Homo sapiens: one gene and its partners. The protein of the gene in region 1 purifies or fractionates together with the protein of each later gene. This does not show direct contact. Each region holds a gene or a part of one and is shown in the gene's direction. Other genes may lie near its edges.

Evidence for each region.
Region 2: the proteins of B3GAT2 (region 1) and CACNA2D2 purify together in Homo sapiens (affinity purification with mass spectrometry; one large-scale study listed by BioGRID and IntAct). This does not show direct contact.
Region 3: the proteins of B3GAT2 (region 1) and FAM20B purify together in Homo sapiens (affinity purification with mass spectrometry; one large-scale study listed by BioGRID and IntAct). This does not show direct contact.
Region 4: the proteins of B3GAT2 (region 1) and TMEM59 purify together in Homo sapiens (affinity purification with mass spectrometry; one large-scale study listed by BioGRID and IntAct). This does not show direct contact.
Region 5: the proteins of B3GAT2 (region 1) and ATP13A3 purify together in Homo sapiens (affinity purification with mass spectrometry; one large-scale study listed by BioGRID and IntAct). This does not show direct contact.
Region 6: the proteins of B3GAT2 (region 1) and ASIC1 purify together in Homo sapiens (affinity purification with mass spectrometry; one large-scale study listed by BioGRID and IntAct). This does not show direct contact.
Region 7: the proteins of B3GAT2 (region 1) and CLSTN3 purify together in Homo sapiens (affinity purification with mass spectrometry; one large-scale study listed by BioGRID and IntAct). This does not show direct contact.

Annotation. Positions count from the first base shown.
Region 1 is NC_000006.12:70,946,536-70,951,268, reverse strand, and holds part of B3GAT2 (galactosylgalactosylxylosylprotein 3-beta-glucuronosyltransferase 2 precursor), read left to right. Parts: intron 1-4,733. UniProt on the Homo sapiens protein: Involved in the biosynthesis of L2/HNK-1 carbohydrate epitope on both glycolipids and glycoproteins.
Region 2 is NC_000003.12:50,373,851-50,378,583, reverse strand, and holds part of CACNA2D2 (voltage-dependent calcium channel subunit alpha-2/delta-2 isoform b precursor), read left to right. Parts: intron 1-250; coding exon 251-300; intron 301-486; coding exon 487-576; intron 577-780; coding exon 781-852; intron 853-1,042; coding exon 1,043-1,117; intron 1,118-2,395; coding exon 2,396-2,470; intron 2,471-2,549; coding exon 2,550-2,621; intron 2,622-2,703; coding exon 2,704-2,775; intron 2,776-2,878; coding exon 2,879-2,940; intron 2,941-3,770; coding exon 3,771-3,847; intron 3,848-4,733. UniProt on the Homo sapiens protein: The alpha-2/delta subunit of voltage-dependent calcium channels regulates calcium current density and activation/inactivation kinetics of the calcium channel.
Region 3 is NC_000001.11:179,063,183-179,067,915, forward strand, and holds part of FAM20B (glycosaminoglycan xylosylkinase), read left to right. Parts: intron 1-744; coding exon 745-916; intron 917-1,122; coding exon 1,123-1,314; intron 1,315-3,617; coding exon 3,618-3,677; intron 3,678-4,733. UniProt on the Homo sapiens protein: Responsible for the 2-O-phosphorylation of xylose in the glycosaminoglycan-protein linkage region of proteoglycans thereby regulating the amount of mature GAG chains.
Region 4 is NC_000001.11:54,046,705-54,050,204, reverse strand, and holds part of TMEM59 (transmembrane protein 59 isoform 2 precursor), read left to right. Parts: intron 1-2,832; coding exon 2,833-2,938; intron 2,939-3,500.
Region 5 is NC_000003.12:194,401,422-194,405,067, reverse strand, and holds the end of ATP13A3 (polyamine-transporting ATPase 13A3), read left to right. Parts: 3' UTR 1-2,391; downstream 2,392-3,646. UniProt on the Homo sapiens protein: ATP-driven pump involved in endocytosis-dependent polyamine transport. Uses ATP as an energy source to transfer polyamine precursor putrescine from the endosomal compartment to the cytosol.
Region 6 is NC_000012.12:50,074,171-50,078,903, forward strand, and holds part of ASIC1 (acid-sensing ion channel 1), read left to right. Parts: coding exon of another isoform or gene 1-74; intron 75-2,797; coding exon of another isoform or gene 2,798-2,890; intron 2,891-3,042; coding exon 3,043-3,193; intron 3,194-3,829; coding exon 3,830-3,957; intron 3,958-4,247; coding exon of another isoform or gene 4,248-4,250; coding exon 4,251-4,407; intron 4,408-4,733. UniProt on the Homo sapiens protein: Forms voltage-independent, pH-gated trimeric sodium channels that act as postsynaptic excitatory receptors in the nervous system, playing a crucial role in regulating synaptic plasticity, learning, and memory.
Region 7 is NC_000012.12:7,132,612-7,137,344, forward strand, and holds part of CLSTN3 (calsyntenin-3 precursor), read left to right. Parts: intron 1-412; coding exon 413-535; intron 536-961; coding exon 962-1,157; intron 1,158-2,715; coding exon 2,716-2,924; intron 2,925-3,192; coding exon 3,193-3,342; intron 3,343-3,594; coding exon 3,595-3,780; intron 3,781-4,217; coding exon 4,218-4,499; intron 4,500-4,733. UniProt on the Homo sapiens protein: Postsynaptic adhesion molecule that binds to presynaptic neurexins to mediate both excitatory and inhibitory synapse formation.

The DNA of each region.
Region 1 (4,733 bases):
GTCAATGGTCTTATTTATTAACTATTTCAGGTGGTATTCAAGTAGTGGTAGGTTTTTTGTTGTCGTCATTGTTTTTTGCACAGAATTCAATATTGTACAGATATGTCTATTTAAATGTTTTGGACTCTGGAATATTCAGCCTGTGTAAGTTAACACATATATATTTGATTCACAGTGCTTGTGAAGCATGAAATTTAAGTTTTGCATGGAGCTCAAATTCTCCCACCAAAATACAAATAAAATTGTTATACCAGTACATAGATAGATGCATAGGTAGGTTTAGAATACATCTCCAAAGCACAGAAATAAAACTAAGATAATTTGTTGTTCATGCCTGGTAATTTTTGCATACAATTTTAAATAAATGTTAATACCCTATATCATGGATACAAGCAAAATATAGTTGACATAAATTGAGCATTTACTATAGGCAAAGAAGTACCCTTAGGGTTTTACGTGTATTATTTAATCTTCATAACACCCTGAGGTAGGTAATAGTACTGTCTCTGTTTGTTTGCTGTTTTAATACTAATGCTAATATTTAGTTATGGACGCAGTCCCTTGGTGAGTACAGAGGACTTAAACAAATGCAACCTGACGGTAATATAGTTGTTTACCTCTGATCTATATAATCAGTATCCCCGTTTTTAACAGAAGCACTAGGAAGTAACTTGAAAATGTCATGTAGCTGTTATGTGGCAGAGATAGAATTTTGAACCCAGGTGCCCTGGTTCTAGCGCCTGCATTGTTGACTGTCCTGAAACTCATGTCATTTAACACATGAAAATATGTCATCATTATAATAAGTAAAGCACCTGATTAGCAGGAGCCTTGTGATATTATTACTGTCTTCTGCCATTTTTGAATTCAGGTCTTTCTTCTTGGTTATGTCAACTCTTAGCTTTCTCCTTTGACCTTTTGTTACTTTTTTCCTTTTTGTTGTTAATGTATTACATTGAAAAATAAAATTTTTTTTTTTTGCAAGAAAATGTACTTTATTAGCTTTCTTTGTTCTGTGGGTTGATCTTCCTGGATATTTCTTTATTTTATTTTATTTTATTATTATTATACTTTAAGTTTTAGGGTACATGTGCACAATGTGCAGGTTAGTTACATATGTATACATGTGCCATGCTGGTGTGCTGCACCCATTAACTCGTCTTTTAGCATTAGGTATATCTCCTAATGCTCTCCCTCCCCCCAACCCCCACCCCACAACAGTCCCCAGAGTGTGATGTTCCCCTTCCTGTGTCCATGTGTTCTCATTGTTCAATTCCCATCTATGAGTGAGAACATGTGGTGTTTGGTTTTTTGTCCTTGTGATAGTTTACTGAGAATGATGATTTCCAATTTCATCCATGTCCCTGCAAAGGACATGAACTCATCATTTTTTATGGCTGCATAGTATTCCATGGTGTATATATGCCACATTTTCTTAATCCAGTCTATCATTGTTGGACATTTGGGTTGGTTCCAAGTCTTTGCTATTGTGAATAGTGCCGCAATAAACATACATGTGCATGTGTCTTTATAGCAGCATGATTTATAGTCCTTTGGGTATATACCCAGTAATGGGATGGCTGGATCAAATGATATTTCTAGTTCTAGATCCCTGAGGAATCACCACACTGACTTCCACAATGGTTGAACTAGTTTACAGTCCCACCAACAGTGTAAAAGTGTTCCTATTTCTCCACATCCTCTCCAGCACCTGTTGTTTCCTGACTTTTTAATGATTGCCATTCTAACTGGTGTGAGATGGTATCTCATTGTGGTTTTGATTTGCATTTCTCTGATGGCCAGTGATGCTGAGCATTTTTTCATGTGTCTTTTGGCTGCATAAATGTTTCTTTTGAGAAGTGTCTGTTCATGTCCTTCACCCACTTGTTGATGGGGTTGTTTGTTTTTTCTTGTAAATTTGTTTGAGTTCATTGTAGATTCTGGATATTAGCCCTTTGTCAGATGAGTAGGTTGCGAAAATATTCTCCCATTTTGTAGGTTGCCTGTTCACTCTGATGGTAGTTTCTTTTGCTGTGCAGAAGCTCTTTAGTTTAATTAGATCCCATTTGTCAATTTTGGCTTTTGTTGCCAATGCTTTTGGTGTTTTAGACATGAAGTCCTTGCCCATGCCTATGTCCTGAATGGTAATGCCTAGGTTTTCTTCTAGGGTTTTTATGGTTTTAGGTCTAACGTTTAAGTTTCCATCTTGAATTAATTTTTGTATAAGGTGTAAGGAAGGGATCCAGTTTCAGCTTTCTACATATGGCTAGCCAGTTTTCCCAACACCATTTATTAAATAGGGAATCCTTTCCCCATTGCTTGTTTTTCTCAGGTTTGTCAAAGATCAGATAGTTGTAGATATGCAGCGTTATTTCTGAGGGCTCTGTTCTGTTCCATTGATCTATATCTCTGTTTTGGTAACTGTAGCCTTGTAGTATAGTTTGAAGTCAGGTAGTGTGATGCCTCCAGCTTTGTTCTTTTGGCTTAGGATTGACTTGACGATGTGGGTTCTTTTTTGGTTCCATATGAACTTTAAAGTAGTTTTTTCCAATTCTGTGAAGAAAGTCATTGGTAGCTTGATGGGGATGGCATTGAATCTATAAATTACCTTGGGCAGTATGGCCATTTTCACGATATTGATTCTTCCTACCCATGAGCATGGAATGTTCTTCCATTTGTTTGTATCCTCTTTTATTTCATTGAGCAGTGGTTTGTAGTTCTCCTTGAAGAGGTCCTTCACGTCCCTTGTAAGTTGGATTCCTAAGTATTTTATTATCTTTGAAGCAATTGTGCATGGGAGTTCACTCATGATTTGGCTCTCTGTTTGTCTGTTATTGGTGTATAAGAATGCTTGTGATTTTTGTACATTGATTTTGTATCCTGAGACTTTGCTGAAGTTGCTTATCAGCTTAAGGAGATTTTTGGCTGAGACAATGGGGTTTTCTAGATATACAACCATGTCATCTGCAAACAGGGACAATTTGACTTCCTCTTTTCCTAATTGAATACCCTTTATCTCCTTCTCCTGCCTAATTACCCTGGCCAGAACTTCCAACACTATGTTGAATAGGGGTGGTGAGAGAGGGCATCCCTGTCTTGTGCCCGTTTTCAAAGGGAATGCCTCCAGTTTTTGCCCATTCAGTATGATATTGGCTGTGGGCTTGTCATAGATAGCTCTTATTATTTTGAGATACGTCCCATCAATACCTAATTTATTGAGAATTTTTAGCATGAAGGGTTGTTGAATTTTGTCAAAGGCCTTTTCTGCATCTATTAAGATAATCATGTGGTTTTTGTCTTTGGTTCTGTTTATATGCTGGATTACATTTATTGATTTGCGTATATTGAACCAGCCTTGCATCCCAGGGATGAAGTCCACTTGATCATGGTGAGTAAGGTTTTGATGTGCTGCTGGATTCGGTTTGCTAGTATTTTATTGAGGATTTTTGCATCAATGTTCATCAAGGATATTGGTCTAAAATTCTCTTTTTTGGCTGTGTCTCTGCCCGGCTTTGGTATCAGGATGATGCTGGCCTCATAAAATGAGTTAGGGAGGATTCCCTCTTTTTCTATTGATTGGAATAGTTTCAGAAGGAATGGTACCAGTTCCTCCTTGTACCTCTGGTAGAATTCGGCTGTGAATCCATCTGGTCCTGGACTCTTTTTGGTTGGTAAGCTATTGATTATTCCCACAATTTCAGAGCCTGTTATTGGTCTATTCAGAGATTCAACTTCTTCCTGGTTTAGTCTTCGGAGGGTGTATGTGTCGAGGAATTTATCCATTTCTTCTAGATTTTCTAGTTTATTTGCGTAGAGGTGTTTGTAGTATTCTCTGATGGTAGTTTCTATTTCTGTGGGATCGGTGGTGATATCCCCTTTATCATTTTTTTTGTGTCTATTTGATTTTTCTCTCTTTTCTTCTTTATTAGTCTTGCTAGTGGTCTATCAATTTTGTTGATCCTTTCAAATAACCAGCTCCTGGATTCATTAATTTTTTGAAGGGTTTTTTGTGTCTCTATTTCCTTCAGTTCTGCTCTGATTTTAGTTATTTCTTGCCTTCTGCTAGCTTTTGAATGTGTTTGCTCTTGCTTTTCTAGTTCTTTTAATTGTGATGTTAGGGTGTCAATTTTGAATCTTTCCTGCTTTCTCTTGTGGGCATTTAGTGCTATAAATTTCCCTCTACACACTGCTTTGAATGTGTCCCAGAGATTCTGGTATGTTGTGTCTTTGTTCTCGTTGGTTTCAAAGAACATCTTTTTTTCTGCCTTCATTTCGTTATGTACCCAGTAGTCATTCAGGAGCAGGTTGTTCAGTTTCCATGCAGTTGTGCAGTTTTGAGTAAGTTTCTTAATCCTGAGTTCTAGTTTGATTGCACTGTGGTCTGAGAGACAGTTTGTTATAATTTCTGTTCTTTTGCATTTGCTGAGGAGAGCTTTACTTCCAACTATGTGGTCAATTTTGGAATAGGTGTGGTGTGGTGCTGAAAAAAATGTATATTCTGTTGATTTGGGGTGGAGAGTTCTTTAGATGTGTATTAGGTCCGCTTGGTGCAGAGCTGAGTTCAATTCCTGTGTATCCTTGTTAACTTTCTGTCTCGTTGATCTGTCTAATGTTGACAGTGGGGTGTTAAAGTCTCCCATTATTATTGTTTGGGAGTCCAAGTCTCTTTGTAGGTCACTCAGGACTTGCTTTATGAATCTGGGTGCTCCTGTATTGGGTGCATTTATATTTAG
Region 2 (4,733 bases), on another chromosome or scaffold:
CTCAGACCTCAGGCTCCTCCCTCCCCATCTCTGCCCCCTGCTCTGCTTCCTGATACTGCTGCACTCACTCCCTCTCCATAGCACCGCCCTTGGCAGGGCAGAGGCCGGGAGCACTAGAGGGAGAGGACCCCAAAAAGAGAGGAGCCCAAGAGGCGAGGCAGGGCTGCAGACACACCCCAGGGGCAGGGCCCTCTGCACATGGATCCTGCAGTGCCAGCCAGGCCCACCTCTGCCTCTCCTTCCTTCACAGGCTACTATTTTGAGATCCCTTCCATCGGAGCCATCCGCATCAACACACAGGTGAGACTTGGGGAGGCCCCTCCTCCCAGCCCCTGGCTTCCCTGCAGGGACGCTGTGTGCCATGGGCTGCTGTGGGCCAAGGGCGCCCCCTCACAGTGGCTGGGGCACAATCCCAATGCCTGGCGAGACAGAACAGGCAGTGCCTGGGAAAGGCACTCATTACCCCCACCACTGCCCCCTCCCCAGGAATATCTAGATGTGTTGGGCAGGCCCATGGTGCTGGCAGGCAAGGAGGCCAAGCAGGTGCAGTGGACCAACGTGTATGAGGATGCACTGGTAAGGCCTCTGGACAAGGAAGGGGTGGGGCTGGCACCCTTCCCCCGGAGATGTGCCCACAGGGTCAAGACCCTGGAGGGCCCCCTTATGGGGTAAACCAAGCACAGGAGAAAGAGGTGGCCTGCACCTCAGTCCCTGCTCTGAACACTCAGGGTGGGGTCAGTGCTGGCCACAGGTGACTCCATCATCTTCCTCTCCCTTCAGGGACTGGGGTTGGTGGTAACAGGGACCCTCCCTGTTTTCAACCTGACACAGGATGGCCCTGGGGAAAAGAAGGTGAGGAAAGGGGAGGGTTGGGGCTATGGGTGTGCCTGGGGAGGAATGGGCATGCCCACAGCAGGTCTGAGGGTGGAAGAGGGGCAGGGCAGGCCTGCACACTGCCTGTGAGAGCAGCTTGAGGCCTTGTGGAGGGTGGTTCCCCATGGAATTGAGCTCACTGAGGAGCCCCCCATGCTTCTGCTCCCAGAACCAGCTGATCCTGGGCGTGATGGGCATTGACGTGGCTCTGAATGACATCAAGAGGCTGACCCCCAACTACACGGTGAGCATCCCCCTGCCCATCCGCGTACCCTGCCTCCCATGTGGACACAGGCAGGCTCAGCAGAGAAGACTGATGGGTATTACAGCGCCTCCATGGAGACCTCTGAGTTCAGGGGTCGGGGAAGGCTTCCCCAGGAGGTGACCTTGGGTCTAGAACAAGGTGACCTTGGGTTGGCAAACTTTCTGTAAAGGGCCAGACTGAATATTTTAGGCTTTGCAGACCTACATACCCATCTCTTACTCGGTTGCACTGTTGTATTGTGAAAGCAGCCACAAACAAAACATAAACAATGGGCATGGCTATGTTCCAATTTAATTTTATTTGTGGATACTGATATTTGAATTTCAGATAATTTTCACATGTCACAAAATAGAATTCTTCCTTTGATGTTTTTTCCAGCCATTTAAAAACATAAAACCATTCTTAGCTCATGGCCACATAGTAATGGGCAGCAGGCCAGACCTGGCCCATGCACATAGGCAGGAGTGTCCCAGGCAGAAAGGAAAGGAGGGGATGGCGTACATTGGAGGCAGAGGGAATTCTCTGGCCAAGGGCCCAAAGGTGAAAAACAATCATAAACCAGGGTAGGGGCAAGATGGCATTGTGGCTGGCCCAGCGCCTGCGGTCAGGGAGTCTGCATCTTGGCCTGTGGAAGGGGGAGAGGTGTGGTATGTACAACAGCATCATTAAGCCTGAGCCCCCCTGAAGCCTCTGCTTGGCCCTGAGTGGGCAGGGGCTGTGGCAGTTGGCCTCCAGGTACAGTAAGAAACTGACTGGGGGAGGTAAGGGCTAGGTCCAGGTCCCACTTACTCCTACTTCCCTTCCACCTGGAAGGGAAGCCCCAGGTAGGATTCCGAAGGGTCCACTCGTCCCGCTGCTCTCTCTTGACGTGGGGACAAGGAGGAGGCACAAATCAGGGGCAGTAGTGGCTAGAGGAGGGCCACAGGGGTACAGAAGCAGCAGACCTGTGGGGCCGGTGGTGGCAGAGAGGTCAGGACAACTGACAGCTCATGAGAACCAGGGGGAGAGGATGAGGACTGCAGAGCAGCAGCCCACACGCCGGTTAGCCTTGGCAAGGGCTGGTGCACAAGGGGCAACCCGCCTGCGGGCCTGGCTGGAGAGACAGGCTTAGGGCCACGTGGCATGGGGGGGCCCTTAGCCCAAGGCAGGCAAACAGAATCTCTCGGTGCGGTGGGAGGCCAAATAGGGAAGAACTCCGGAGCCCAGGGAACCCCAGCCCATCCCTCCAGACCCTGAGCCCCCAATCTGTGCCTCCAGCTTGGAGCCAACGGCTATGTGTTTGCCATTGACCTGAACGGCTACGTGTTGCTGCACCCCAATCTCAAGCCCCAGGTGAGCCAGACGGGTGGCCTGGAGGGTGGGCAAACCTTCCACAATGGGGACTTCTGACTTCCCACCCTGCCTCCAACAGACCACCAACTTCCGGGAGCCTGTGACTCTGGACTTCCTGGATGCGGAGCTAGAGGATGAGAACAAGGAAGAGGTAAGGAGAGGAGGAGAACAGGGGTGGGGGACAGAGCAGAGGAGTGTAGGGGCCCTGCCCCTCACATCTCTGGCCCTTCCAGATCCGTCGGAGCATGATTGATGGCAACAAGGGCCACAAGCAGATCAGAACGTTGGTCAAGTCCCTGGATGAGGTAAGGAGGCAGGGCTGGGGGCCAGGGAGTCAGGGTGGGCACCCTTCTACCCCAGCGCCCCCTGCCTGCTAGCCCAAGTACCTGACCCAGCCTCCTCTCCCAGAGGTACATAGATGAGGTGACACGGAACTACACCTGGGTGCCTATAAGGAGCACTAACTACAGGTAAGTGAGGCCAGGGCTGGGCGGGCAGAGAGGGTGGGGTGGCCCCAGAATCTGAGCCCAGCTGTCCCCTCCCTCTCCCACTGTGACCACCATCCCAGTGGGGCACCAGTGGCCAGGGCTGCTCACTACTCACCCTGAGATGCTTAGTCTGCCAAGAGACTCCCTGGCTTTTAAGGAACAAGCAGCAGGTCTGAGAGCACAGCACAGTCATCCAAAGTCTCCTCATCCCAGGATACTGCCCTTGGCATGCTGTCAGCCTGCCTCACAGTCTCAGGGCAGAGGAGGTCCCTTGTGTGTCAGGCTGGGTCAGTGCAGGCTGACCTCTGCCTGCCCCACACAGCTAGTCCATCCTGAAATGCCGGGGCATCCTCACAGCCCATGCCAGCCCACAACTGCCACCCCCTGCCCCCACCATATCTGCGCCAGCCCTGCTTTCTGCTGGCTTTGAGTATCTGGGGGCTGGTGACCCCACTCCCACGGCAACACTGGCATTGCAGCCAGCTCACGGCAGCGTCTGCCCCTTGTGGGTCAGAGGGAGGTTGGCTGGGCAGGGGGCTGTTGTGAGAGGCTGCTGGGAGGGGAGATGGTGTGGGGATTTGCTTTGGGGCTGGTTGCCCGGTGGCCCCCAGGAGAGTTTGAGAAGTGGAGAGCCTCCAGGGTGCCGGCCCCTAGACCATGAACCTCCTGCAGCTAAGCGGGGAGAGGGGTCCCTGGTGGTGGGAGGAGGGGATGCTGCAGCTGGGGCCTCTGCCCAGCTCCAAGGCCATGGGGAGGGGGTGCCAGTGTGGCCCGCCTCCCCCCAGCCGTGACCCGAGCTTCTCCCCCCTCAGCCTGGGGCTGGTGCTCCCACCCTACAGCACCTTCTACCTCCAAGCCAATCTCAGTGACCAGATCCTGCAGGTCAAGTGTAAGTGGCCCGGCCCCTGCCTGCGCCCTGCACCCTGCCTCTGCCCCGCACCCTGGCCGGCCCCAGGCAGCATAGCCAGCGCCGCTTGCCGGCGAGGCAGTCCCTCCTGCCCAGTCTGCCCACCCTCAGGTGCCCGCAGGCTGGGGCACCTCGAAAGTCTGTGGAAATCTGCATGCTTGCCTTTTCTCAGATTCGGTTCCAGACCATTCTTTCATGGTTTCTGTTGAGGTTGCTGTTTTTGGTTTCTCCTACTCCGTGTCTTCCCTCCTTAGCCTGCCTGCCCCACACACTCCTGGGGGCTGCATTCTTGGAAGACACCCCCTCCCCTTACCTTCCCCCTCCCCTCCCCACCCACCTCCACTCCCCTTCCCCTCCCCTCCCCTTCCCCCTCCTCCTCCCCCTACCCTCCCCTTTCTCCTCCCCCTCCTCCTGTCCCTCTCCTCTCCCCTTTCCCCTCCCCTTCCCTTTCCCCTTTTCCTTCCCCCTCCCCTTCCCCCCACCCTCACCATCCCCCCTCCCCTCACCTTCCCCCCTCCCCTTTCCTCCCTCCACCTCCTCTCCCTTCCCTTCACCTATTCCCCCTCCCTTCAATTCCTTCCTCCTTCCCCTTACCTCCTCCCCAATCCCACCTCCCCTCTCCTCCTCCCCCTCCCCTCCTCCCTCTCCCTTCCTCCCCTTCTCCTCCCCCTCTTTCCCCTCCCCTCCTCTCCCTCCAGTCCTTCCCCTCCCCTCCTCCCCCCTCCCCTCCCCCCTTTTCCCTTCCCCTCCCCTCTTTCTCCCTCCCCTCCCCTCTTTCCTCTCTCTTCCTGTTCAGCTCTCTACCCCTGTGGTGCCCCCTTCCCATGGTGCCTCTCTCTCTCTCTGCCCCCTCCTCTCCATTCTTTCC
Region 3 (4,733 bases), on another chromosome or scaffold:
GGAAGAATTGCTTGAACCTGGGAGGCAGAGGTTGCAGTGAGCCAAGATCTTGCCACTGCACTCTAGCCTGGGCGACAGAGCAAGACTCAGTCTCAAAAAAAAATAAAATAGTGAGTTTAGAGGCCAGACATGGTGGCTCATGCCTATAATCCCAGCATTTTGAGAGGCTGAAGTAAGAAGATCACTTGAGTCCAGGAGTTTGAGCCCAGCCAGGCCAACATGGCGAAACCCCATCTCTACCAGGAAAATACAAAAATTAGCTGGGCATGGAGGCATATACCTATAGTTCCAGCTACTCAGGAGGCTGAGATGGAAGGATGGCTTGAGCCCCAGAGGCAGAGGTTGCAGTGAGCTGAGATCACGCCACTGCACTCCAGCTTGGATGACAAAGCCAGACCCTGTCTCAAAACAACAACAACAACAAAAACAAAACAAACAAAAAGTGAATTTGAAGGATACTGGTGATGGTAGTTGACACCAGAGAGTGAGACTGGGTAGAAAGGACACAGGAGGCAAGGGCAACTTACTTTTGGGTGTATATCCTTTTGTACTTTTTAAATTTTTTTTACACCGTGTGCTTTTTTATTACCTATACAGGAAAATAAATGTTTGAAATATAGTAAACTCAGGGTCTTTGTTTTCACCATGCTTATTTACTTAGCTACTCTGTTCTGCATTATTTGGGAGAGAACTTGGAGTCTTCGTTATTTCCTTAAGTGTATTTGGCTCCTTTCTGTCCTTTAGGAAACAATACTTGTTTTTATGGGAAGTGCTATTACTGCCGAGAAACAGAACCAGCTTGTGCTGATGGAGACATAATGGAGGGATCTGTCACACTTTGGCTTCCAGATGTGTGGCCTCTGCAGAAGCACCGTCACCCATGGGGCAGGACTTACCGAGAAGGCAAATTGGCCAGGTAAATGCTCCTATGAGCCATTACTTAATTCTCCCCTGTGCCTAGCCAGGTGCCAACTCTGTAAAGGAGCCAGCAGTTCTGTCCAAGAGTGAAAAGAACTGTGGAGTCAGGGGCAAACCGGTAGGTAGGAACTCTGTCTTCTCTTTGTGTGTAACAGTGCCAGGTACAGTGTTGTCACTCAGTGCTGTGATGCTGCTTGTCTCCAGGTGGGAGTATGATGAGAGCTACTGTGATGCTGTGAAGAAAACGTCCCCTTATGACTCTGGCCCGCGCCTCTTGGACATCATTGACACAGCTGTCTTTGATTACCTGATTGGCAATGCTGACCGCCATCACTATGAGAGCTTTCAAGATGATGAAGGCGCTAGTATGCTCATCCTTCTTGATAATGCCAAAAGGTGAGACCAGCAGGACTGTCCTTGTCAGGGAGGGGTTTCTGTATATGAAAGAAGGGCATTTTCCAGAGCATCCTGGAGAATATCCAGAATGCAATTGATAGGCAACATCCTTCTTTTTTCCACTTGGAGTCTTTGCTATTGGTACCTGTCCTTCTCTCCACTCTCAGGGATCTCAGTACTTCAAAAAATGGAAAAGTGGTTCTTCCAAGGAGTCTAAGACTCTATGAGCCTCTTCTCAGACAACTGGAAAACCAGGGTTATTCATTTGTTACTACCTACATCGTTCTTTCTTGGCTATGATATTTGGTGTTTAGAAGCTTGAGAAATACAGATGTAATAGAGTGTGGAATTTGTCGTTAAATTTATTCTATCCAAAGGTTCCTGCAATTAAAAAATTAATTTATTTGGTAGGATGTTTTGCTATTTTTGTGTTTGTCTAGGTCCATACTTTTGCTGTCATGGGAAGAAGAGCTGTTGCCTAGTGTGGATTTTATATATAACAACAAGTTACTTTTATCTTGAATAAAAAATGTTTATTCATTTTGAATAAATAGAATGTCCTTATTTTTTTAGGCCTGAGCTATTTGGAGAGCACATTGTATTTCCATTTCATATTCTGCATTCTCTGTGGTGGCCGGTTTAGTGCCACACTTTTTTTTTTTAAGTTTTTTTGAGACGGAGTTTTGCTCTGTTGCCCAGGCTGGAGTGCAGTGGCACAATCTCAGCTCACTGCAACTTCTGTCTCCTGGGTTCAAGCGATTCTCCACCCTCAGCCTCCTGAGTAGCTGGGACTACAGGCACTCGCTAATTTTGTATTTTTAGTAGAGACAGGGTTTCGCCATTTTGGCCAGGCTGGTCTTGAACTCCTGACCTCAAGTGCTCTGCTTGCCTCGACCTCTCAAAGTGCTGGGATTACAGGTGTAGTGCCACACTTTTAGTTGCATTTAATAAATATTTACTAAATAGAACGCTTCCTTGGAGTACAGAATTTTCCAGGCCCTAGGTCACTACTGTTAACATTGGTTGTTGGAAATAAGCTAAGACATGGCTCCTCAGCAAAGAGTGCTTGGGCAGCATTTGCTAATGATGCCACCATCTTATACTGAACACCAGGCGCCTCATGCTTTGTGAAAGATGGTGATGGCCACAGAAAATGAAAAACCAGCAAACACTGCCTCTCCCTCTACCCCATTACAGCAAAGCACATAGCACTCATCCTGTGATACACATGATACTTGATATTTGGTGTATATCAAAATAGTTGCTTTGTCCACTCGGGCCGCTATAACAAAATCCCTTAGACTGGGTAATTCATAAGCATCAGAAATGTATTGCTTACAGTTTTGGAGGCTGGGAACTCTAAGATGAAGGTGCCAGCAGATTCAGTGTCTGGTGAGGGCCTGTTTCTCAGATGGTGCCTTCTATGTGTCCTCATATGGCAGAAGAGGTAAACACGCTCCCTCTGGCCTCATTTATAAGGGCACTAATCCCGTTCATGTGGGCTCTTCCCTCGTAACTTAATCATCTCCCAAAGGCCCTACTTCTTAATACTGTTGGACTGTTGTACCAGGGATTACGAATTTGAGGGGGACACAAACATTCAGACCATAGCAGTTGCCTTTGCCTTGAATTACTGGAGGACCTACACTGTACTAAGGGCTACCAGACTCTAGCTATTAAGGTGAGCCTCTGGAAAGATTGAAAGGTTGACAGTTTTCCAGAATCAGTTCTCCTTTTCTAACTCTGAATTGCTGCTAAGGTAATTTTTGCATCTGCTGTGAATCAGTTTCCTCAGCCTGTGTGAACAGTTTTTCCAATTTGAATCTGTACTTATACTTACTTGTAGGGAATAGGATATTGCTAATTTGGGAGTAGAATAAGTGTGACTTCTTTTTACAAGTAATGGTCATCTGCTTGTTTGTGGGAATCTAATATAAATGGCTTTTATTTCTCTCTGGTCCTTAAAACCTTTGCAGGCTTAGGGGTCTTCAAGTTCTCCCTTTGGTCTGTGAACTCCGCACTGTGTTTACCATAGTTATGCTCCAGCACCTTGTGATATCTTGGCAGGAAAATGTCCCTTGTAAATGAGTATATTTGTTGTCAGATATTTTAGTACAGGCTGTTAGGGATCCTGTGTCTAATTGGTCATGCCCCGCTTGTTTTCAATTTAAGTGATTTGAGCTGCTGGAGCGTGAAATTATCTAGGATCACATTTGAGTTTCATATAGAATTTGCTATTGCTTTGATGCTAAGAAGAGAACAGTACTTCCACCTAATTCACTAAGTTTTAATTTAATTTTCAGCTTTGGGAACCCCTCGCTGGATGAAAGAAGCATTCTTGCCCCTCTCTATCAGTGTTGCATGTAAGTTATGCACAGCAAATACATGTGCCTGCATTGCCTTCTTTTCCAGGCTCAGGTAACAGTACATCCATTTTCTTGGCCCTCAAACTTTCTGATACCTGAGCAGTGCTTTTCATACTTTTCCAACCTAGAACCTCTGGACATCCTGAAATGGGATATCAGGGAAAGGTGAAGGCAGATAACCCAAAGCTCAGAATTCATCTCAAATTTTGTATGAATAGAAGATTGTATGTATACAGTAATACATGTTTGGTTTAATAGCAGAATATAATCACCCACACTCCCCACCCCACTGCCAAAAAAAAAAAAAGGAGTAAAATCTGTATGCCTGGTTACTACACCTGGTTACCTTGTGGTTTTAACTCCTCTCACTCACCCATCACATACCACCTGGGGTTTACATATTTCAGTTTGAAATTGTCTAAACCAAAAGTAACTTTTTCCATAAATAATAATTTATTTTGGCCAGGCACAGTGGCTCACTCCTGTAATCCCAGCAATTTGGGAGGCCAAGGTGGGTGGATCACCTGAGGTCAGGAGTTCGAGACCAGCCTGGCCAACATGGCGAAACCCCGTCTCTATTAATAATACAAAAATGAGCCGGGCATGGTGGCAGGCACCAGTATTCCAGCTACTTAGGAGGTTGAGACAGGAGAATTGCTTGAACCTGGAAGGCAGAGGTTGCAGTGAGCCGAGATTGTGCCATTGCACTCCATTCTGGGTGACAGAGTGAGACTCTGTCTCAAAAAAAATAAATAATAAATAATAATTGGTTTTTTTAAAAAAACTCTGTATTAGAGAACAGAGAAATTGAAAAATGAGTCAAGAAAATGAGATAAAGTCTAAGCTCTAAGAAGCTTCTTTTCATCATTCCTGAAATAATTTTATTTTACTATTTTATTTTTTATTTTATTATTTTTTTGAGACAGGGTCTGCATCTGTCACCCAGGTAGGAGTGTGGTGGTGCGATCTCAGCTCACCGAAATCTCTGCCTTTCGGGTTTAAGCAATTCTTGTGCCTCAGCCTCCCGAGTAGCTGGGACTACAGGCACCTGCC
Region 4 (3,500 bases), on another chromosome or scaffold:
GCAGTGAGCCAAGATTGTGCCACTGCACTCCAGCCTGGGGGACAGAGCAAGACTGCATCTCAAAAAAAGAAAAAAAAAAAAGAAATCTCAGACACTTTTTGAGAACTAATTATTTGTTGCAAGAAAGTAGAATACCTGTTTGTAAATAGTTATTTTTAAATTATTCTATGTTTTATCTACAGAAGTGCAATTGCATAATTTATCTCGGTCGAAAAAACAAGAGACATAAATCATGTTAATAAAAAAGCTAATTAGAGCCAGCCTGGTCATTTTTTAATGGAGTGTGGTCTCTAGAACCATACAGACCTGGTTTTATTCCCAGCTCCTTGATTACTGTTTGTCCTTGCTGATCACTTAACTTCTATTTATTTATTTTTTAATTTAAAATAATTGAAACAGGGTCTTGCTGTGTTGCCTAGGCTGGTCTCAAACTCCTGGGCTGAATGGGTCCTTATGTCTTGACCTCCCAAAGTGTCGGGATTACATGCATGAGCCACGGTGCCTGGCCTAAATAGTACCATTGAGGGACCTTCTAATTATGAATTTAGCTGGTATTTCATATGGTGGAAGCACTATTTATTGTGTCCTAAATCAGAGGAGATACATGTTATATAAACTTGCCAGTCATTTGGGATACATAGGGCATGAAATATTTACTTGAAATCATTATTTTTGTATATATAACATGAAATACTTAGAATAAAGATATGATTCTTGATAGCTACCAGTTGAGTGCCTGCTCCATACCAGATGTTTCATAATTTGTTAAGTCTTAATACAGTGCCTGGCACATTGTGGATGCTCATTAAATATGTCTGTCTATTAGATAGTACTACATAGTAGTAATGCTATTGTAGATATAAATATATAATTCTCCTAATAGTGAAGATTGACACTCTGCAATTATACAGGCAGTAGAAAATAAATGAATAGTAGTTAGGATTGATGTAAGAGTATTGTCCTTATTTTACAACTGAGGAATTAGATTAAGTAACTTGTCAAAGGTTGTGCAGAATAAGTGGCAAGTCTGAGCTTCAAACCAGGGCCGATTCCTGAAACCTCGGCTCTTTTCACCATGCCATATGGTTTTCCGAAATTGGTACTGGATGACTTATTAAAGGAAAGCATATCTGAGAATGAAATGGCATGTGGTATAGCTCATACTAATGAGCTTATGCTTCCTTTGTGCAATATAAGGAAATATGTGGTGCTCCAGAGACATAAAATAATTCTTTAACTGTTTTACAAAGCCTGCAACAGCTACTCAGATATGAAATCTATCTCAATTGTTAAAATTCTTTCAATTTCATCTTAACAGTAAATGCAGTTGGAACTGAGGTCCAAAAGTGTGCTACCTTCAAAGTTGTATGATAAAGTATATTTAATATTAGACTGCAGGCATCTCTTCTTGATGGATTGTTGCTGCTGCGTAAATTTTACTAATCCTTTTGCTGGAAAGAAATACATAGCTTGTATTTCATTGGTTGCTAACTGGTATATGCACATGCTGTTTCCTTATTAGGTGTCTGCCAGTTTGTACACAGTGGATCACATAGTAAGTCGAGGGGGCTCCCCCATATGCAATAGCTTTTTTTAAATACTTTTATTTTATCAAAGAAAAACAGCTGAAGACATTAGTCTTATTAAGCAGTTAATATTTTACAGTAATGAAGAACCAGATGTCCATCCTGTCTTAAGCTTTCACACGTATACATTGATGCCTGTAATTGTTTTCTATTTTAAAAATCTATTAACACTATTACCATTTATTAAGCACCTTCTACATCCCAGGCACTATACTGGAAATAGCTTCCAAATTATTGAGGAATTTGGAGATAATGGCTGTTCTCTCCTTTTTTGATGAGAAAGCTGAGATTCTTAGACAGGTAAAATAACTTATGCACTCACCCAAAAGGTTTGATCTAGGTCTGGCTGATTGCAGTGTCCTTTCCCATACACCACACTGTTGCTCCTGTGTTTTCATTTAATGTAAGCCCAGTTTTAAAAAATCCCTTCATATAAACATTTTTATAGATGTATACCTTACTTTATCAGGCCCTTGTGTCACCATTTGCCATGTGAAGCTAGTCTGATACTTTTCCTGATAAGCCTGGTGATTCATATAAACAGGGATGTGGCAGAAGTATGCCATTGGTCCTAGGGTACTTGCTTACTCCTATCGCTGTTAAAGTTCTAGTTATATCACCGTTGTGTTTTTTGTTGTTGTTGTTTTTTAAGCAACAGGGTCTCACTTTGTACCCCAAGCTGGAGTACAGTGGTGTGATTATAGCTCACTGTACCCTCAAACTCCTGGGCTCAAACAATCCTCACACCTCAGCCTACTGAGTACTAGGACAACAAGTGTGCACTACCATACCCAGTTATTTTTGTGTGTGTGTTTGTTTTGGTACAGATGGGGTCTCGCTATATAGTCCAGGCTGGCCTCAAACTGTTGGCCTCAAGCAGTCCTCCCACCTCAGCTTCCCAAAGCCCTGGGATTACAGGTGTGAGCCACTGCACCTGGCCTGTCACTATTAGTTTTATTTTTAATTTTTCCCCCCCACAGATTGTAACCAAAGAAAATGGAAAAAGGGTGGTGGTTTTACCTACTAGGCTTTTTTCTTCGTATCACTTTTAAAATAAGGAACTAAAACCTCTATATGGCAAAGGTCTTGAGTATCAACTGGCTCCTATCATTTTTTTCTTTCAGTTATGAAACTTACTGGACGATTTGTAATAAACTTTACTAACTGCTTTCTTCCTAACCTGTTTTCCCCTGAGGAAAAAAAAATACTATTTTTTGGTAACCCTTCCTGTTCTTGAACTCCCTAGGAAGAGGAGTTGTACGCATGTCAGAGAGGTTGCAGGCTGTTTTCAATTTGTCAGTTTGTGGATGATGGAATTGACTTAAATCGAACTAAATTGGAATGTGAATCTGGTAAGATGCTATGCTAACGACATCAGCTGTATGTAACATTGTTTTCTTTGTGATAAGCTTTTGAAGTATTTTCTTTAGGAAATGGAAAACACACTGTTGAAACTAGTCATCTAACATATTGTAATTATTATGGATCTAAGAGTTTTCGTAGCTGCTGCTAGAAATTTCATGGGCTTTAAATTTCATCTGTTTGTTGAGACAGTGTTTATTTTCTGCTATGAATAGGACACCTTTGTTTAACCAAGCATTCTGTCAGACAAATGCAGTATAATTACCCTACTCACAATTCATTACTACCTTTTCACAGATAGTATAATTTTCCTAAACCTTTCAATCATAAGTTCATCGACTTATCTCCAAGTTTTTTACTGAATCAGGCCTTTGACTCAGTATTTAATAGCATATTATTCATTGGTCAGGCCATTAAAATAAGTAGCCAGAGGCTTTGTCATCTGTTAAACCACTTTTCTTTCTTTTTGCTGAAAGCAATATGTTTAACAAAAGAAACCTATAATCAGGACACAATTGACGTTTAACTTTTTAAATAACTATAATGGAATAT
Region 5 (3,646 bases), on another chromosome or scaffold:
CAGGCTTTGTGTTATTTTAAATGGTTTTTTAAAATTTTCTTCTATGTTTTCAATTACCTAAAGACATAGGATAATAGTTTTTTTTAAGTTAGAATTTTACCTCATAAAATTTTTTGAGGTTTGATGTATGTCTCTGTCTTATCAATAATGAGGCTTAAAAAATACTGGATTTGAATGGCTGCCGTTTTTTCAAAGCAATATGAATTTGATGAGTTTGTTTTATGCCATTAGGTGGCGCCAGAGGTCAGAACATGTCTATTTTGAATTGGATCGTTACAAATGAGCATATTTGATGCGGAAATTTCTGGGAGAAAAAAAATTGAGGAAATAAAGTTAAAAAATTGACATTCATTGAGCCAAAAGAGATGTGGAGAAACATTTTTCACCTTTCTGTTTGGCCTGATTAACATTTAAATTCTTGCCAAAATTAAGGTAACTTTTAAAAAACACCTTTTATAGGTGGATCCAGCAGTCTGGCAACGCCCACAGTTACCACAACACAGAAAACTGATCGTGCTATAAAATGGACGCTAAACTATGAAAACAGTGTGACATTGTTCTCTGTTCTTCCAGAGCCAGTAACATGCTTGCTCGTGCTTTCTACTTCTAGCTGATCATTCTTTTCCCAACATATATTTACAAATTTACCAAATTTTACCTAGAATTTTAGGACCAAATGGTTCTCACTCTTTATGCTGCAAAGACCTGGATGATGTTTGGTAACTATAGAAAAATAGAAATTACACTCAGGATCACTGTTACTGCTATTGCCACTGATGATTCCTGCAAAAATATAATCGAAGTTTTCCATCAAATGTATAATATGCTATTAATACACATTAGATGATAACAGTTGTTCCATGAATGATTCTATGAAGCTATGCATCTTAGACCTCTTGAGCTGTGAATTAGCACTATTTTCTATAGTTACTTATTCTCTGGATCATTTTATAATTTCCATATTAATTTCAAATATGCTCGTGTTATTCTTCAGTGATTTCCACAATTGTGCATTTTATTCTTTGGTTTAAGTACTGAAGCATATAATGAAAGTAATTGCTAAGTAGCAGCTTAAAAATTCAATTATCCGATTGTATTTAACATCTTTAAGAGCATGATCATAAAGAGCTATTTTTGACACCCCCCCCCCACTTTTTTAACATTTAGAGTTAGTAAGGGTTTTATATCTCTTCTGTCCATATTGTTTTCAAAGGAATGAGGTGTTTAGGTGGCTGGAAAAGCATTTGTAGGAAGTTAGATTTGAATATAGACAAGGTGGGTTATTCACGTTGAGAATGTTATTTGAAGAATGCCTGTGAAGCCAGGTGTGGGTTCTACTCAGTGCCATAGATAGACTGAGTCTTCTCTCGTAGGTTACCATTACATAGTAATTTTGATTCTGAATTTCACATTAAATTATTTGAGTTTATACAGACCTAAATTTTAAAATCTGTACATATATTATTTTGATGTATTAAGATGAATATTGCTGATTTAAATTTTATTTATGCACATACTTAAAGGACAGAAATGTCTGGGAAAGTAATTGTTAAATAATGATATGTAACTTTTTAACTTTTTAAATAAATAACAAGATTTTTAATGTGTGTCTCCCTCAGGGTTGTTTAAAGTTTTTTTTCTCCCTCAAGTATAAATAGTGGTAACTATATGTTTTGTATCTTCTAGCACCAACTGCTGTAAAGCAATGCTGCAAATAATGCTTGAATACAAGTGGCTAAGCCAACAACAGAATAAATACTTTTATAGTAGTTTTATAATCCTGAAATTCGAAAGCTTTCCCAATTGCACTTGCATCTAAACAAAACTGTTGCAGTTTTTACTCTATTTATTTTGTTCCCCATGTTTATGAAAGTCCTGCACAGTTTCAAAGGCATGGTAAATAATATATCAATGTTTATGTAGTCTGTTACAGAAACAGCTATAGATAACATTATCCAGTGAAGAGCAAAATTCAAGCTTTAGAAAATATTCATGCATGCAATTTTGACATATCTAAAAATAGGTTTTTGTATATTTATGGTGGGAGGTGGTTGGGAACTTTTAACAAAATGGGGTGTTAATTTTTGTACAGTCTGTGGGCATTTACACATTTTTAATGTATTAAAATTTGGTAATTATGTGTACATTAAATTAATAAAAGTTACTTCTAGTTATGATTTGTGAATTCCCTAAGACCTTGGATTTTTTTAAGTAACTTTATATCAGAAATGATACTGCATCTTTATATTTTTAAAATTGTATTGCTGCTCAAGAATGGTACCCTCTTGTCAAAAAGGCATACATTCATAATTGTACATTCAGCATTGTAAATAATCTTATGAAACCTTTTTTGATTGAAGCTATTCAAAATAAAAATTTTAATGAATGAAATAACACTTTTTTTCTGTGTCTTTATTCATTTGTTTGCTTTTTAGTGACATGAATACTGCCCTTTGTGGATTTATTTTCCTGCCTAATAATACTTCCCCATTTCCTTCTTTTTTTTTTTTAAAAAAAACTGGATTTTGAAGGAAATAAGAACAACATTCTGCATATCATGCCATGTGTGTGAGCATCCTGGGGAAACCCCACAGTCGGATGCAGTGTAGAGCCAAATGTTAAATGCGAGGAGGTCTGAGGGCAATGGTGAAATGAAATAGAAGAGTAGGGACTTATAATCTATTAATAGTTGGGAGAATCAAACCAAAAGCTAATACCATGGAGAGAGAAAATGGTTGTAAAAATCCCAGAGAAGACAGGACCTTTGTGTGTGGGTGGGAGTTGTTTCCATGGAGCTCAGCTCCGGGAGACACGGAGCCCCTGCTAGGGAATATGTGGCTGGCTGTGGTGTGATGAATTCGGGGGGTGAGGGCCTGCCTGCCTTTAGCTCAAGTTCTTAACAGTCGCTATGGTTTGTGCGGCATGTGTGATCCTGTCCCCACAGCCTGCTGGTGTGGGCACAGTTCTGCATGTCTCTCCTTCCGCTGTATCACTGCCAAGGGACAGGGAGTCCTAGGGGCTTGAGTGAGACTGTCCGTGGTCCAAGTTGGGGTGTGGTTGCTCCCTGCTGTGCCCGGCCCACTGAGTCTCCCTCAGAGGAAAAAGGCTTATCTCACCCAGGCACAGACCTGCTTTTGAATAGCCAAGCCCCTTAAGCCAGGTAACTGTTTTACAGCAGACTTCTGACCTGGTAATGGATACAGAATCTTAAGACTTGGAAGCACTGGAGCTGTCAACTTCCTTGCTCCAAATACTTCTCATTACCTCATCAACTTGCTCAGTGGATGGACTAAGAGTGTTCCCCCACTCTGCAACTGCCATACCTACTTTTCCCTTCCTGGACAATCAAAGTGTCTTCCTAAGGGACAAAATGTAGAGGCCATTCTGACTGGAGGTTTTCCTGGGGAAATAGGCTAAAGAAGGGCCACAGGAATTTGAGCCATCGGCATCTTACTCTGTTTCACAGCTCGCCTTCCCAGTCTGTCATGTTGGCTCCCTGGCAATTTCATGGGCAAGGGGGCGGGGAGGCTTTCACTCGATGTGCCTATGCATGACGGACTTACCAGGTCACCAGTGTAGCAGTTCAGGGCTCTGGAGTTGCATTCCTTGATCGGAACTGAAAGACCTCCCGCGATACCTGGCAGAG
Region 6 (4,733 bases), on another chromosome or scaffold:
GCCACCGGCTGGAGGACATGCTGCTCTATTGCTCCTACCAAGGGGGACCCTGCGGCCCTCACAACTTCTCAGTGGTGAGTGGAGCCCCATGCCTGCCACAGTACCCCAAGAGTGTCTGCCATGGCTGTCCCTGACTGTCACCTCCTGGGGTTGGGGCTGGGGCTGGGGCTGGGGCTGATGACTGTGCTGCCCCCTACCTCATCTGGCTGACACAGGCCAGAGCTCACCCAGGAGTCCGGGGCCTGGAGCTGGGCTGGTATTCCCAGGTCCACACCAGTGCTGCTTTTCCTGTTAGAATCTTGAAACACGTCTGTCTTAGTTGGTATTTTGCTGCTGCCTCCCAACATGTCCTCCAGCTTTACCTGCCCTTCTCAAGACTTCCTCATGGTCCAGCAGGGCCCGGGACCTTGCTCCATCTGTGAGGTCAACCTTTGATCTGTTGGTGGACGCCAGTGCCTGGCCAGTTGTTCACTATTTTGACTAGCACCCATGGACTGAAGCTGGGGTGGGTGCTGCCTGGTCTCTGGTGGTACAAGAGAAGGGAGTGAAAGGGTGACAGTAGAGGGGTGGGGATATCCCCCAACCCCACCCCACCATGGCCCTTGTCAGCATCTCCTGCAGCAGGGACTTCATTGCATCTTCACTTGGTCTTCCTGTGCCCTCCTATGGACGCCCCACCCCCACCAGCTCTGTGTGTGTGTGTGTGTGTGTGTGTGTGTGTGTGTGTGTGTGTGTGTCTGAGGGTAAATAACAGGTCTCTAAATCATATCCCTCTCCCCAGCTTTAAGTGGCCAGGGACCCTCTTCCTAGGGGAAGCTCTCACTGGGAACTGTCCTTCTGCTTGGCCCCCCACCCAGGGGTCCAGGGCTTTCCCTGCTGGGGGGCCACCTGGTACCCCACTGTCTCTCCTAAGTTCATCTTCCAGGTCTGTCTGGCCTGACTGCTCTCCTGCCCCACCAGCTCCCAGATGCCAGGCCTTCCCTGCCCCACACACCCATCCCTCAGTCCTCCACCCCCTCCCTAGCGTAGGGGCAGGGGGTGTCATCATACCCGTGCATCATGGGATGACTGCAGGCATACAGGGGCCTGGGGGTTTGGGCCACTGGGCCTCAGGCCAGGAGCCATAGGAATGTGTCTACCTCTGGGCCCGAGAGTAGAGCAGACAGTTCTCACCCAGGCCCACCAGGTGGCAGCAGCAATCCACTGTACAGCAGCCCTGTCCTCTGAACCGGCGCAAGACAGGGCTGCTAGCCGGCCTCAGACACCTCTAATCCCATACAACTCCGGATGGAGTGTAGGCATGGGCATATGTCCAGCCTGGAGCCTGTGGCTGGGTGCCGCAAGACCTGGTCATGGGGCTGGGGACTAGGAGCCCTTGGAGTTCTCTCTTTGCCTCATCTCTGGACCTCACCCACAAAGTGGGGAGAGCAGTATGTCTCCTCTTCTGGAGGTCAATGGAGGAGGCTGTTCTAGGAAGGGGGAAGGGGGCAAAGACCGTATTCCCTAGTAACCTACTGCCATTGCTGCTCCAGTCTGGCCTGAAACTCTTTTGTCTCTCCCCTGCTCTGGGCTGTATTGACTCACCTTATGACCTGTTTTGTGGACTTTGTCACCATCCAGCAGTAGTAAAAGCACAGCCACCCCAACTTGGGGACATTCAAGGAGGCTGTGGGGAAAAGGCCAAGGATAACTGGTTTACTTTTCTCTTTGCAGCTTTTTAATCAGCACTGTGACCAGGGCTGCACTGGGGCATGGAGTGGGGAGAAGACTGGGGAGACAGCCCCTGGGGCTGAGATATCTTCTGAGGCCCTCCTAGTTTTGCAAAAGCATTAACGCACACACCATGCCCTGGGGGCTCAGTCCCAAGTGCTGGAAGAAGAGGTGCTGGTGCTTGGTTGAGTGTGGTCCTTGGCATGGCAACTGGGTCTACTTTCAGGTTCTGCTGATAATGGGATAATGGAATAATGATGGACCCAAGGGGCTAGGGGCTGAATGAAACCAAAAAACTGAGTTTGGCTGGGCACGGTGGCTCATGCCTGTAATCCCAACACTTTGGGAGGCTGAGGCAGGTGGATCACCTGAGGTCAGGAGTTTGAGACCAGCCTGGCCAACAGGGTGAAACCCCATCTCTACTAAAAATACAAAAATTAGCCGGGTGTGATGTTGTGCACTTGTAATCCCAGCTACTTGGGAGGCTGAGGCAGGAGAATCACTTGAGCCCAGGAGGCGGAAGTTGCAGTGAGCTGAGATCGCACCACTGCACTCCAGCCTGGGCAACAGAGCAAGACTCCATCCCAAAAAAAAAAAACTGAGTTTGGGTCTTGGGGAAAGCAGAATTTCAGATTCCCAGAGTGAAATCTAGGAGAAGAGAAGATATGTCTTGGAGGGCCTCAGGAGCTTGGGCCTGAGGAAAGTGTCCCAAGGAGGGGCCGTGTTAGGATCCTGGTGATGAAAATGTATATGTCAGGGTCCTGGCAGGAAAAAGACAGCTACTTGATGATTTAATTGAAGACTTTAACAAAGGGACTGCTGACAGAGCTGGGGGCAGGGTTAAGGAAACCAATAAGGGGGACTGAGGCAGTGAGCAGTACTAGGAAATCGTTATCACTTCTAGGCTGAAGAAGCACAAAAGAAGACAGTGCTCTGTAGGGAGCCCTGGCAGGATCTGTAATCATGGAGGGCCTAAGGCACTACTAGAGCTACAGAGGGGCGAGGGCTGGGGAAGGATTCATACCCCAATCTTTCCTCCTGCCTTCTGAGCCATTACCAATACCTCCCAACTGTCAACCCCAACTAGAAGCCCATGCAGGTGGCAAAGGAGCTCAGGCGATGCACCCTACCAGGAACAGTTTTCCAGGGCACACAGAGGGCAAGAAAGGGTGAGAAACAGGTGGGAGAGGGGAGCAAATGGAGAATGGGCTGCACGGGAGGAACCATTCCCAAAGGGTGTTGAGATTCCAACAGCTGGGGTGGCTAGGAACAGCCCTTGGTGAGTAGAGGGTGCTGGCAGGACTCTTAGGCTCTCCACTCTGCCCTCGCCAGGTCTTCACACGCTATGGAAAGTGCTACACGTTCAACTCGGGCCGAGATGGGCGGCCGCGGCTGAAGACCATGAAGGGTGGGACGGGCAATGGGCTGGAAATCATGCTGGACATCCAGCAGGACGAGTACCTGCCTGTGTGGGGGGAGACTGGTACGTCACCCACTTCAGGGGCCCCTCTGCATGGCTCTAGGCCCCAGCCTCTGCCAGGGGATTCCTGGGCTTCACTGTGAGACCTGGGCAGGGCCCGGGCTTTCCCCTCTCCCTCCAGCATCTCACCATCTCTATCACTGACTCTACCTGACTTCCACACTCACATCTCTCTGGCTCCCACTTCCTGGTTCAGTTACTCTCCAAGGTAACCAGCCATCCTCTTCCATCAACGCCGCCGCCACTCTATAAATAACTCCCTCTCTTCTCGGGCTGCCTGCCTGTCTGGTCTCGGGGGGCCTTGGGGCAGAGAGAGATGGGGGAAAAGGGAAAAAGGGAGTGGGAGAAATGGAGAGCATCTGAAACAGTGACACTCTGGGAGAAAGTATTTGAAACATCAAGATGCAGAGCAGAAGCCAGGTAAGAAAAGAAGTGTGTAGGATACAGGGGTCATCGGAGCAGCTCAGAGCTGGTAAACCCAGAAGGAGGCTAGGGGGTGGGCTAGGACCCTATAGACTTCCCCCACCCCAGCCCCAGTGCACCCTATGCTTATTTCCAGGAGAGGTAGGATGCCCCCAGGTCTGAGGGGTGTTAGGGAGTCAGGAGCCCTCCCAACCCACACACTCCTCATTCCCCTAGACGAGACGTCCTTCGAAGCAGGCATCAAAGTGCAGATCCATAGTCAGGATGAACCTCCTTTCATCGACCAGCTGGGCTTTGGCGTGGCCCCAGGCTTCCAGACCTTTGTGGCCTGCCAGGAGCAGCGGGTGAGAGGGCCATGGGAGGCTGGTCCTGGGGTGGGGTATTGAGGGGTCCAGATGGAGTGGTGGGCAATCAGTAATGGGAAGGACAGGTGAGCAAGGACCTGGGTGGTAATCTGGCTAGTCAGAAGCATGAGTGATCGAATGAACAAGAATGCTCTGTAAACTCTGAGACCTTTGGAGGCTGCAGAGGGAGAGGGGAGCAGAACTCCAGAGATCTGCATCTTGTCAGAGGAGTCCATCAAGCTGATTTGGGGAGAAGTCCCCGCACTCCCCCAGCTCCCCGGCTCTCCCAGCAGCTCATCTACCTGCCCCCACCCTGGGGCACCTGCAAAGCTGTTACCATGGACTCGGATTTGGATTTCTTCGACTCCTACAGCATCACTGCCTGCCGCATCGACTGTGAGACGCGCTACCTGGTGGAGAACTGCAACTGCCGCATGGTGCACATGCCAGGTCAGGCCTGGGGCTCCGAGCATACTCCTGGGGTCCCTGGGCCTTTGCTGCCCTTCACTAGCTCCCCATCCATATCAATCTCCCAACCCCAGTTCCAGCCCACCCCATCCCACACCCACCTGGCTCATGTCTCTCTGACCTCAGTTCCCGCCTGCACCCCCAGGGATGGGTGGGAAGGGTCTAGAAGGTATGGACCTGGAGTGGGTCACTTCTGGGGCAGCATGGGGGCCTGCCAGTCCTCCCTTCCCATCTTCTCCCAGCTTACACCTTCTAGGCCTTTGGTACTACCACCATCACCAGACCCCTTGAATTCCCATCCTGCATCA
Region 7 (4,733 bases), on another chromosome or scaffold:
TGCCCTTAATCTATCCCTTCCCTTTCCCAGGGCCTTCTCACAGCCCACCACTGCTCCCTGAAGTTCCCTGTCTCCATTCTCTAGCACGTGAAATCGCTAAAGAACATTCTCCACTTCCTGACCATGGTTCCCATGGAGATAGTGATCCCCTCCTCTTCACCCCCAGGGCAGGTTGTTTCCATGGGAACTGTCTACCCTGCTATAGGAGAAGGCTATGACCTCCCGCAGACCCTCTGACTCCTTTAGTAGCTGATTTCTTGTCCTCAACCACCCGCCTCCTGTAAGGTGCTCCTATAGGGGGTGGAAAAGGTGATGGTGCTGGGGTGTGAGTTGTCTGGGTCAACAAGGGTTGTTGTGGGAGTAGAGGCCCTGCTCACAGGTGCTTCCTCTCCTCTCCCTGGGGTGGGGCCAGCCAACAAGCACAAGCCATGGATTGAGGCAGAGTACCAGGGCATCGTCATGGAGAATGACAACACGGTCCTACTGAATCCACCACTCTTTGCCTTGGACAAGGATGCCCCGCTGCGCTATGCAGGTAATTGGGATTGGGGGATGGCAAGGCAGGGTAGGACAGAGAAAAGTGGGTGGGAGGGCCAAGAGCAAGGGAGGGAGGGAAGGTCCTGGGAGTGATGAGAAAGTAAGGGAAGATAAAAGTGGGCTCAAGGAGGGGAATGGTCTCCACTGAAGAATGGAGATTGAGTCAAGGATGCCAGAAAAGGACATGGCCAGGCAAGGGTTAAACACATCATGATTTTGTCAGATCTCAGGTCTGGAGGCTCTGGGAGGTTGCTGCTCAGGGAAGCTGGGCTTAGAGTTGCGTGTTTGATCATTAATGCTTTTGTGCCTACAGGAGAAGGGACAGGGCTTTGGGAGGAGAGGTGGAGCTGGACCCCAGGTGGGGAGACTGAGGGTGGGGAAGGAGACACAGCAGCCTCACTCCTCCCCTTCTCCCCTTTGCCAGGTGAGATCTGCGGCTTCCGGCTCCATGGGTCTGGGGTGCCCTTTGAGGCTGTGATCCTTGACAAGGCGACAGGAGAGGGGCTGATCCGGGCCAAGGAGCCTGTGGACTGCGAGGCCCAGAAGGAACACACCTTCACCATCCAGGCCTATGACTGTGGCGAGGGCCCCGACGGGGCCAACACCAAGAAGTCCCACAAGTGAGGAAGTCCTTGTCTCCTGCCCCATGTGTTGCAGGGTCCTCCTCCCTGCTCCCAAGCCCACCATCCTCTGTCCGTGCGGTCATCGAATATCCACCCCCACCCGCTGCTGTTCCTAGGACTTAGGGAGCCCCATCCCCTGCTGTTCCTAGGATTTAGGGACTTTCAGGCAAGGTGACAGAAACGTATAGTAGAGTTCAGTGGATCTAATCTTGGCTTTGCCTCTCATGACCTTGGGCAGCCTAGCCTTTCTGGACTTGCTTTTCCTTATCTGTAGAATGGAGATTGTGATGACACCTACTTCATAAGGCTGCTGTGAAGATTCAAGGAGATGGTTTGTGTTGAAAGCATGCACCACAGTGCCTGATACACGTTGAAGGGCACAGTACATGGGCATAATGATGAGGAGGAGAGCAAGAAGGAAGAGGATGAACACACTCAGCATGCATCCAGTTCCCTTTCAACTGCCCCCTCCAGTCTATTTGCAGTGTATACCACACACACGATCCCTATCATACACATATAGCTCTAGGTGAGGGTGGGCAGGCGATGGTTGTAGCAAGAAAGAGGCTCGGGTCTGGGACACCTACGCTTGTTGCCAGCTAACTTCTTATTTGAGAATAAGAGAAAGATCTTCAGTCAGGATTCCTGAGCCACTAAGAGGCACTAGAGATAAAATGCTCTTTGTGACTCAGTTTCCCATTTGAAGATAGGACCCTTGCCTCTGGGGCCTGGGAGCCTGGGTCTTGGCCTGGGGCAGGGCTCAGCATGAAGGGCCTCGACCCAGCTCTGCTTGCCCCGGTGCATGACTAGGGAGGGGCCGCATGTGCGGGAGGCAGCACTGCCCACACGTACTGTGCAGACATGTCAGATGACTTGTGACCTTTGTACACATGCCATTTCCCTTCTTATGGCTGGTTTTAATTTGGCTTTTACTCTGCATCTTCCTTGCTTATCCCCCCGGATCTGACTGTTGTGAAGGAAGGCCCTGCTGGATTTTATGCCTTACCCCTCCTCTTGGCACCCTGACCCATAGCATTTTGCACAGAAGTCATCAAAATCAGCTCCTGAGCACCCCTGGGCCTTGTTCCTCATCCCCTACATCAGTCCTCCTTTCTTTGGGCCCTCCCTCTGGTGTTGTCCTCTCCCTGGCATGACTTTGATGCAGCTTGGTGCCCTGTGGGGTGGGGAGGAGCGTGCTGACTGCCTCAGTCTCAGGGATAGATGGGCAGGCTCCCTCCTGTTCTGGCTCTCCGTCGGGATTCCTGCTTGCTCCTTTCTGGCATATGGGTGTACCGTGTCGAGGCTGTACCTTGGTGTACAGTATAAGGCTGTATCTCGTTGTGCCCATATTGAGGCTGTTTGTTGGTGTACAGTATTGAGGCTGTATCTTGGTGTACGGTATCGAACCTGTCCCTCCATGTGCCGTATCAAGGCTGTATCTTGATGTACCGTATCGAGGCTGTACCTCGGTGTGCTGTATCAAGGCTGTATCTCAATGTATAATGTCGAGGCTGGCTGACGTGTCTTCATCCCTCCTTCTCTCTGGCATATGCAGGGCCACTGTGCATGTGCGGGTCAACGATGTGAACGAGTTTGCCCCAGTGTTTGTGGAACGGCTGTATCGTGCGGCTGTGACAGAGGGGAAGCTGTACGATCGCATCCTGCGGGTGGAAGCCATTGACGGTGACTGCTCCCCCCAGTACAGCCAGATCTGCTACTATGAGATTCTCACACCCAACACCCCTTTCCTCATTGACAATGACGGTGAGTCCACCCCTGGCTTCCCTGGCCACCCAGTTCCCCTTGAGCACCCACCTCCCTCAGGACAACCCAGGGTTGCATTCTCCACTTTTGCCCCTCAGACCCTCACCTCACCCTTCTTCCCAAATGGAGCCTTCTCCTCCCAGATGCCTTTTTTCCCAGCGTCCTGCTGCCTAACCTGCCTGCTGCCCGATGATCTCAGACATCCTCCCCTCCCTGCCCTGGGCTTTCTCCAATGCTCTAATGCTCTGTCCTCCTGACCCCACCCCAGGGAACATTGAGAACACAGAGAAGCTGCAGTACAGTGGTGAGAGGCTCTATAAGTTTACAGTGACAGCTTATGACTGTGGGAAGAAGCGGGCAGCAGATGATGCTGAGGTGGAGATTCAGGTGAAGCCCACCTGTAAACCCAGCTGGCAAGGTGAGAGCTCAGCGCTGTGCCCCATCTTGTGAATCATCTTTTTTCTTGGTCTCTCTTTCTGTCCTTTCTGACAATCATGGGGGCCAGGCTAGGGCTTGGATGATATTGGGGCAGGCTTGCAGCTATCTACTCTAGCCGGGCCATCCTGCCAGGAGCCCCAAACTGTCCATGGACATGGCAAGAGGAGCATGGAGAGGGGAGGCTGCTTTACCCTTCTCTCTCCCCATCACCCTCTCTGTCTCACCCATGCAGGCTGGAACAAAAGGATCGAATATGCACCAGGTGCTGGGAGCTTGGCTTTGTTCCCTGGTATCCGCCTGGAGACCTGTGATGAACCACTCTGGAACATTCAGGCCACCATAGAGCTGCAGACCAGCCATGTGGCCAAGGGCTGTGACCGTGACAACTACTCAGAGCGGGCGCTGCGGAAACTCTGTGGTAGGTGTGCCCCCAACACTGCCTCAGGCCTATCCCTTCCCATCCAACCTCTGTCCAAACTTTTCCAAGACTCTGCTTTACATCACCACTGGCCATCCACAGGTGTTTATCCATAGAGGTTGTGACACGATTAGCATTTGCGGCCCAAAAGGCAGGTACATATGTCTTTGGCAAAGATGCATAGTCATCGCACCAGACAGTCACCGGATGCATGGTGGAACAATGGTAGGGCGAGATGAAGAGTTGGAGAATGGGTTAACTGGAGAGATACTCTTAGAAGTGAGTTCATCCCTCTCTTGTCTTTGAAAGGCCATAAAAGGTGGCAAGACGTGCTGTAGGAAATCTTTTCCCATCAGTCCCTCTTTCCCTGCCTCCTGCCCTTTTCACCATCTGCTGCTTCTTGGCTCTGACACTTGTGCCTCCTGGGGCTCCCACAGGTGCTGCCACTGGGGAGGTGGATCTGTTGCCCATGCCTGGCCCCAATGCCAACTGGACAGCAGGACTCTCGGTGCACTACAGCCAGGACAGCAGCCTGATCTACTGGTTCAATGGCACCCAGGCTGTGCAGGTGCCCCTGGGTGGCCCCAGTGGGCTGGGCTCTGGGCCCCAGGACAGCCTCAGTGACCACTTCACCCTGTCCTTCTGGATGAAGCATGGCGTAACTCCCAACAAGGGCAAGAAGGAAGAGGAAACCATCGTATGTAACACTGTCCAGAATGGTGAGCCTCCCCTCCAGGCACTAGCCAGAGGGGGAAACTGGCTTCTTGTCCCGCCTCTGTCACTGCCCAGTGTGTGACTGTGAACAGGTCACTTCCCCTCTCTTCATTTGTGAGGTGCAAGTGCCAGGTGTGATATGCCTTGATTCTGTGCTTTATCCCCAACATGACATGTTGGATCGTACTGCTGTCAGAGTGCAATGGGATTCCTTGCTGCTACTCTTGTTTTCAGTTGCC